Linked DNA regions of Homo sapiens: region 2 is linked to region 1. Evidence: fine-mapped expression QTL. A gene starts in region 1. The other region holds a variant in brackets. All regions are shown on one strand. Distances are from middle to middle.

Region 1 (4,407 bases):
ACCCATCTACAGTTCAATTTAGACAAAAGATAGCAGTATTGATAGGCTGGGAAATGGATCTAGAACAGTAATTCCTAGTTACAGACCTCTTTGAGAATATGATGAAAACTCCAGACTTGGACTCCAGAAAAATGTGCCAAAAATCTAGCATGAAGGTTTTGAGATTTCCTGCATCTGTTGAAGTCCAGGGGTCCAGGGACCCACGAAACCTATGTTAAAATTCCTGTACTGAATGTCAGGGTATGGAGTGGGAATAAAGAGACACAGAGAAACAGAGAAGGAGGCACCAAGATAGAAAAAGATAAAAGAGCCACGGAAGAGAGTAGACTCGGAAGTAGAGAGAGACTGAGAGGCTGAAAGTAGATGTAACTGCAGTTCTCTTAGCCGAACATAATCTCGCAATGCTATACATAATTAGGTTCTAATAAACACTTTCTTATGTCCAGAATCTTGAGTTATTCTGTCAAATAAAAATCTCCCATATGAAAGACATGATATATCTTTCACCTGAGGATTTTTGACAGTGTTGAAAAAACATACAGGAACAAGCATTTCATTTTAAAGGCAAGCATGAAGATTTTTAAAAGAACAGTGTAAGTTAAAGGGTCAGTTGGCTTGTAAATGCAAAAGCTTTTGTGTTTACTGAAGGCCATTGGTAGAAAAATTGTAAAAATAATACTGATTGGGAAGCATCAGTCATACTTTTTTTCAAAGAGTTTTTAATATATAGTATTGTATTTTATTTTCACAACAACCCTTTTTGTTAGGTAGGGCAAAAACTGCCATATGTGTTTTGAACATGAAGAAATTGAGACATGTGTATGGAGACTTATCTGGAATGATGAATACTCCAGGAAAAAGTGAATTCTGGAAACCAGATTTCCCAGCTCTGATTCTCAGGTGAATCCATATATCCCTGTTAGATATTAACACCCACATAGCCAGTGTATATTACAAATATAGTGTCTTCTTGTTTCTTAAAATGAAATAAAATTGACGAATTGGAACATGAATTAAAAATAGTGTTCTTGAAATGGGACAAAATAACAGGATCGTAGAACTTTAGAATGTAGGAGACCCTAGACATGAATAATCTCACCTACTTGTTAAGGTCCTTGTTGAGGACAAGGACTTGTCCCAGAGGGCTTGAGATTTGAACAAGACCTGGTGAGTGGAGACATATGGGAGAGACACTAACAGCAGAATGAAATAAGGACTTGCTCTCAACTCTGCTTTTTTTCCCACTCCCACCCAGGGGAAGAAGCAGGATTTAAAAGCATCTATTCTATGTTTTATATAACTTAGATGGAATGTCTTGATAATAATTTTGAAAAATCAGGTGTGAATCAAATCCAGTTCTCTTCTCAGACTATACCTGGGAACTTTAAAATTCCAGTGTTTTCTCAGAAGTTGTCTGTATAGGATAATGTAAAATTCTTTACATTCTGTTGGCCTGGGAAATTTTACATGGCTAAGAAAATATAGTAGAATAATTGCTCTGCTTCTCAGACTATAGTAGAGATTCCTAGGTTAGCATAGGTAATTCATGTTTCAAGGATGAATATGGTCATATATATCCATACATGCCCATATTCAATTATTCATGATTGTGGTATATATATATATACACACACACACATGCATACACACACATACATATGATATATAGATATATAATTGTGAGCATTTATAAAAGCATTAGGTCTGCAGGATATTTAAACACTCTTCATTTGTAACTTGCATTTTAGGGGGAATTATTTAGCTATGCGAGATATCACCATATTCAGTTTTTTTAATATAATAAACATGTCTAGTCAAAGAAGGCATTAATGAAGCAATTCCCCAAATAAAACAGCCCATGATATCTGAGTTGCAGCAGAGAGAGAGTGTGGTCTTTGTAGTTTAATCAAGATCACAAGACTTGTTTTGAGCGTCTGTCATCTTTAATTTTACGGCACTTCATTTCAGAGTAGGACTGCCAGGGTCACATGCAATTAAAACACAGGCAAGACTTGTCTTGTGAAATCTTAACATAAAAAGTAATGTGTTACTCCATTTTAACTTTTCTACTGAACTCCGTGAACTCACTAATTACTTTTCCCCCCTCTTGTCACCTTTTTGATATGACATGTATTTTATAGAGGAGATAGAAATTTGGATTTTTTTAATATCATGCATATGATTGAGGATAACAAAATTAAACCAGAGAAAAAAGGAATGCGTTTTTCAGAAATACATTTTTTAGTAATATCTGAGTACTCCAGCTTCAATTACAAAGAACCTCATAGATCAAATTCTAGGAAATAACTGTTAATCTGCTTAACTAGGGCAGGTAGAAGTGTAATAACGGACCAGAGATTTTACAGAGGCCAGGATCGTGAACCGGAGTTTATTCTCTGGGGTGCGGGCAAAAGCGCTTTTATGTGATTGGCTGAGAAAAGCATTAAAAGCCAGCGCCTACGTGGAGATTTGGAGCACAAGGAGGGTTGTTGCATCATAGTGATCAGTAAATTGCATAGACCCTTATTAACCTTATTGATAAGGAGCTTAGGGAAGACCCAGGCAGGGCGCAATATATTCTTCTTTTTGTTCTCCTGTCTGTCTCCGTTTGCAATCCCAGCCGCTTTGTATGGAGAGCTTTTACGCAGCACCTGAAAATTCAATGTGAGTAGCTGCGCCTTTAAGTTAGAGCCAGGGAATGGAGCGGGAGCCAGCCCATGCACAGGGGGTTCAGGGCCTATTTAACTGGTGCTGGGGACACCTGGAGAATGTTTGAAAATTTTGTGCTTAAAGAATCTTTTATATTACTCCTCTTTCAATGCAGCTGGGGTCTGTAGGGATCAGGGGATTATTTTTGATACCTGTCGAAAAGAGTTATGTCTACACTGATTTTCCATCCCTCACTACTAATTAACCTTATTGTATACAGGAAACAGTGTATTTAATACCTGCATTCTTTCTGTAATGCCAAGTAAAATGAAATCCAGTGTGAAATCTAGTTAGCGTTTGCCTTTTTGAAGTCATTTTTAAGTTTCCAGTTTTAGTGACTGTGACCTCAGAACTGATAGCTAGAAAAATAGTGAGCTCAAACCAATTTTGGTTTCAATTGTATTCCTCACTCCTTCCAACTTTAAAAGCTGCCTTTCACCTGGTCTGGTGAGGAGAATGGAGGAATGGAACATCCCGAGCTGGACCACGTTTCTCTGGAGTCTTCCATGTTGGCCTCTGCCTGTGGTTGTGAGGTTTCCCTTTAGGCCGGCCCCATAGGCCGGCCCCTACTCCATTAACCTGGTTTCTCTCCTTGGCAGTTGAACACCTGTGTCCCCTTCTTTTCAATCTGGGAGGCTGAAATTTGACAGACACATCATGGCAAAGTTGTGCAGCAGCGATACAAGTAGATGCTGAAGAAAAGGGAGGAATCTGAGCGCAGGATAAAATGCTCAAGAAAATCCCATTGGTGGAATGTTTGTGAGAGAAAAAAAAGGTAGGGTCTAGCAAGAAAGAGCAGAAATTAAACTGTGTAAAATGTCACCAAATGATGTGGAAAAATCCACATGTCTTCAAGTATGCTGCACAATATGGACTTAGAACACATTTTGCGAGTGATGTGAGAATGGTTAGCACAATGGTTACATTCCTGCTCTTAAAATTCCAGTGTGTGTGTGCATGTGTGTGTGTGTGTGCATGTGTGTCAAGTAAACTTGTTAGCGAAAATAGTGCCAGAGGAAAGTGAGGATTTTCAGGCCACTGCCTTGTATTTTCCAGATTCCTTGGCTTTTGAGATTTTCATATGTTGGTCAGAATGCCTATGCCTTATAACATTTGTCTGACATGTAAACCACACATTGATAAGTGGAGAGAAGGTTAGTGGAAGATGCTGCTGGGTGTCACAGATGCCTAAGACCCCCTCCTCCTCCCAGCTGACTTGAACCGGGACATCAAAATTTGCTGTCAGACTTGCATGGGTTAGATTGGTGAATCTTACCATCTCTCCACTGCTTCTGTGATTTAGTAAGCATTTCTTAGGGACTTGCACTTCAAGAGAGGTAGCTGAAGGAATGTCTGTTTGATGGCCCTTGTTTAGGTGGGACTAAGAGTCAACACAAATACCACTGATTTGGCTGCACATAAGACGCTACATTTAACTTGATAGGAAACCTGACGGTGGATCATATTTGTATTTAATGTTGCTAGTGTTCTGGGTTTTTGTCTTGGTTCACTGATCCATCAAGTGTGCACAGAGCCCCAAGCACGGGCATGGTGTTGCCACTCTCACTTACTGCTTTCTTAGCGCTCTCCTTATTGAATGGGGAGTGTTGTATAGAATCCTACTGATGGCTTAAGAGTTTTGTGGACCCTGCATACTTTGCTTCAAGCATAAAATAGCAAAAATCAGTTGTATAAGTC
Region 2 (4,407 bases), 130 kb before region 1:
ACACACTGAGTGAAGAAAAGAGGTATGACTGTAATCCCAGCACTTTGAGAGGCTGAGATGGGAGGATCACTTGAGGCCAGGAGTTTGAGACCAGCCTGGGCAACATAGCCAGACCATGTCTCTATTAAACAAACAAACAAAAAAAAAAAACAAAGGAAAGAAAATTAGGTGGAAGAAGAGAAGTAAAAGACAAGACAACTGAAGAACAGAAGAGAGAAAGGAGCTGAAATTTTGAATGTGAGTACAAGTGCCTCCGTTTCTTCATCTATCACTATGAAAATGTCAGGACATTCGTTGTTAGTAATGACTACTTGGAAAAAGAGTTCTTTGGGATGAATACGGCTATGTGCAACTTAGCTCGAATTACATTCTGCAATCTGTGAGACCAGTGAGACATTGTCCAGTTGAAAAGTCTCTAGGCTTAAATCAAGCTGTAGAGGGTCTATGTAGTCCAAGCTTTCGTTAAATGACTGTGCAATCTGGATCACATTATATGTCCTAAGTGTGTTCCAGTATCCCTATTTGTTGAAAAAAGGAGATGTGAGCTACCCGTCTCACACGCCTAATGTGAAAGTGTAAGAGACATTGAGTACATGAGACATTTCAGTACAAGTGTTCTGAAAAATTCAAAACCAATGCAAAATTCAGACCTCAGAACCAAATAAAGTTCATTTTTCCCCCACTAAACCATTAATGAATGACTTCAGTTAATAAAAGGGTGTGACTTGCCAAGGAATGGATTAGTATTCATTATAAAAATTACATTATAATTAATGCACTCATTAATGATCTACCAATCAATATCAATTGAAGGTCTATTATTTTAAGGAGGATGGGCAATTAGCAGTTTGACACCATGAGAAAGAGATAACCAGCTGACTGATGGGTCTCCATCAAGTTTAATTTTAATTTGTTTTAAAAGGATCTTCTTTAGGAGTGAGTTTAGATGCACATCACTCTTTCTTCTTTCAGAAAATGAATATATATGTTGTTTAAAAAGCATATCAGAATGACAAAGAATACAGTCTGGCATATGTAGCAAGAAATGAGCACATCTAAATGGGCTGGATGGTATGGTGTAAGTTCTATTCTCTCGCACAGTAATATAACTGGATTGCTCTTTAAAGTAAGTGAATTTGTATGTCCGCTTTCTCTTAATGGAATCAGTTTTGATATACTCTTTGTTCATGCTGTTACTGGCTTCAGTCTAAGGTTTCTTTGTATTAACTTTTTAAAGTTACATTACAAAGAGGTTTTAAGATTTCCCAATAGGCTTTTATTTAACTGAAGCTTTTGATCTCAAACCTGCTGGGGCCTAGTGAAATCCTTACCAATTCTCCAGTAACTCCTCACTATTGGAATTTGAAAAGACCCACCTGAAGGATTTAACTCCCTGTATGGCTTCAGCCACCCTTCAGATCGTGCTATTCAAGCAGACAGCGAGGGGTTCTAGTGTACCCTTTGTGATCGCTAAGCAGCCTAAGGTGTCCTTTGCAGAAGTTGTACTCCTGAGGAAATAAAAATCAGGAGGACACAGACCTATATACCTTGTTTCCTGCTATCTTCAGTTAAAGGGGGATAGCAGGGGTCTGCTTAACATCCTTTGCTACCTAAATACCTTTTGGACATGGGAACTCTATAAAAGAACTTTCATTGCATCCATTACCCTACTGCAGTGCATAACAAATTAGATTTAAAAGGCTACTTTTTTTCCCTTACAGCAATTTCCATCATTTTCTTTAAAATTTCAATTTAGTGTCTAGTGACAGAATATTCTATAATGTACTTTAAAACTCTATAATGTCAATTATGCTAACTGAATATTATTTCCAAAGAATTAGGCTTATGTTATTACAGAAAAATCTTAGTTTAAAAGATCAAGTAAAGAGAGAAGTAGAGAATTGATTCATGCTCAAAAGGTGTTAAATATAAAACTAGATAAAACAAATACTGTTTCTGGAAATCTTTTTAAAAATGCAAATACGCATTAATTTTCTATTTAACCCTCAACTCCCAGTTTTAGAACAATTTTGTATTTTAAGTTGAAAAACGTTAATGCCAAATATTAACCTATTTTTAGAAAGGGTAAAATAATTCTAAGAAAATTCCCAATTATAGTATTTAGATATCTTTATTTCATTTGAAAACTCCATCGTGCAGAGATTTTAGAACATGTAAACAACAGTAAGCATGAAAAGCAAATAAAACTTCATAAAGAACACAATATTTGCTGCTGTGTGTGGGGAGAACAGATGTAGCTATGCACCACTTCTCCTGTGTAAACATTTATCTTT[G/A]CCTTTCTATTAACCTGATGTAAAGCCTCTTCATTATTAAAAAATTATTTAAATTCTATGTTGATAAATAGAAATCAACTTATTCCTATGTTACTTCTTTGTATCGGATGTTACTATCTGGGACAAAGCCTCAAGTTAGCTTTACATCAAAGAACCAGAAAGAAATGTGTTTCCAGAAGTTGTAAAATGTTTGCCATTTAGTTCCACTGTGATTCGAGGACATATTCTCTCACACTGTACATGCGCCACATATTACTAGACCTCAGAGGTTCATCCATCTCAGGGTGGTTTCACCCCTTTGGGCTCTCGTGTAACTACAGAAAACCAGTCTTGAACAATCTCAATTCTGAACATGTGGTAGAGTTGTCAGAGAATGTTTTCAGTCTGGGTTTGAGGACTAACGTTACCATACCTGTAGAACATGACATAATTGTTTCATATCTTGATTTACTAATTTCCATAAACATTTGTTACACATCTCATTTGTAGATCTTTATGAGTAGCTGCCTAGTGGAATGTTATTTTCTGCATTTAATAATAACTGATTATATGAAGATAAGGTGATATGAATTCTTTCTCTGGAGAAATAGGGCTCAAAGACTTGCAGAACTGTGAGAATGGGGGAAATTATGAAAAAAATTTGGATTTTTATGGATAACATAATACAAATGTTACTTAAGATATGTTGTGTTCCAGTAATACTCTGCTCCTTTGTAAAAACAAACAAAGAAACAAACAAAAACTATGCATTTTTAATGTGTGGGCAAAAGGTTTAACAAAGTATTTCTCATAATCCAAAATTTACCCTCATCACTCTTATTCATAGTATAAATAGTTACAATTTTGGAGATAGTCTTGCAATATTTATCATTTTAAAAATATAGATCACCTTTGATTAAAAACATGACACTTTCAAAAATTTAGCCTCTAGGGATACTCACAAAATTGGTATAGCTGTACTTAGAAGAATGTTCATTAGAGCATTATGTGTGAGAATAAAAAATCATGGTCAATCTAAATGTCCATCAATGTGAGATTGTTAATAAGATATCAGATATCCTTGGTAACAGTACTATTGTGGTCTCATGCCTACGAAATGTCAAGAAGCAACTAGTTAATGGACACGGCAACCACTTTGAGTAGATGTTATTAATTTGACATTTATGGGTTTAGAAAGCAAAGCACAGATAAATTAAGTAACTTGTCAAAGTCACAGAATTACTAATGCTGGGGCTAGGATTCAAATGCAGCTAAGCCATTTGGTCCCAAAGCCCACGATCTTATCCCTTCTACTATGATGCCCATAGAGATTCCAAGAATGAGGCAGTTTTGACGGCTTCAAATGGAAAAGATGTCCAAGAATTATTAGACATAAAAAAAATGAAGTCACAAACAGAAGGTATAGTATGGTGTCATTTTGGTAAAAGTTATATACATATTAGAACACTTGGAGAGGAAATCTGAAGAATTATTCACCAGGTTGTTTATATGAGAGTTTCTGTGGGTGGGAGTCTCCAATTCTGTTTTATGTATCTGTAATATTTAGATATGTTATAAAAGTATATGATAACAATAGTTTTTTAAAATATCAAAATATAATTGGAAAATTAATAACAGCAGTGAATTATTTTATCAACATATGTAGTATTATTTTCAGAATCTCAAGTGCTGGCAGTCAGTTTGGCCTTTTTTTTTTTTAACAAAGCAGAAACAAATTGTATCACATAGAATGTTCATAATATGGACATTAATTATCACAGTTGGTGTTTGAGGGAGGCTGGTGTTCTATGATAAAGAAAGCTACAACACTGAGAGTTTTTTCCTATATAAGCAAATTTTGCAAGTGATTTGTCTTTTAACTATTGAATAAAAGTACTTTTTATCAATAGAGTTAAACTTATTTTTATTTCACATTCCCTGTATTAGAACATGAATATTTATTCTTTTAAAGCTTTTTATTTTTTGTGGAAAGAGGATTCTCTCAACCTTTCTAATATATAAAAACACTTACTCACATTTGCACTTATAAACTGCTTACATGGGCAAACATTGCATTCCAGGTTCCTAGGGAGGGAAATTCTGCATTTTATTCTGAAGTTACAAAAGATAATTA

Direction of the effects. Positions count from the first base shown, and alleles are read on the strand shown. Sizes are in standard deviations (SD) of each study's normalised expression.
As copies of G replace A in region 2, the expression in substantia nigra of the gene that starts at base 2,569 in region 1 goes up (large effect, 0.75 SD a copy in GTEx).

What was found. PIP is the estimated chance that this variant, and not a neighbour inherited with it, causes the effect. A credible set is the group of variants that fine-mapping cannot tell apart.
Region 2: its variant is the best candidate, but not a certain one, in a credible set for the expression of ARHGAP15-AS1 in substantia nigra (GTEx, PIP 0.74).

Annotation. Positions count from the first base shown.
Region 1 is chr2:143,774,260-143,778,666 of GRCh38, reverse strand. ARHGAP15-AS1 (ARHGAP15 antisense RNA 1) reads left to right here and starts at 2,569. Exons shown (of 8, transcript XR_007087251.1): 1 at 2,569-2,664; 2 at 3,309-3,484.
Region 2 is chr2:143,903,987-143,908,393 of GRCh38, reverse strand. No RefSeq gene overlaps it. Among named protein-coding and RNA genes, the nearest start is that of QTMAN-AS1, 31 kb to the left of the region's middle. RefSeq lists an enhancer at 1,178-1,736. The variant G/A (reference allele first, on the strand shown) is at 2,295.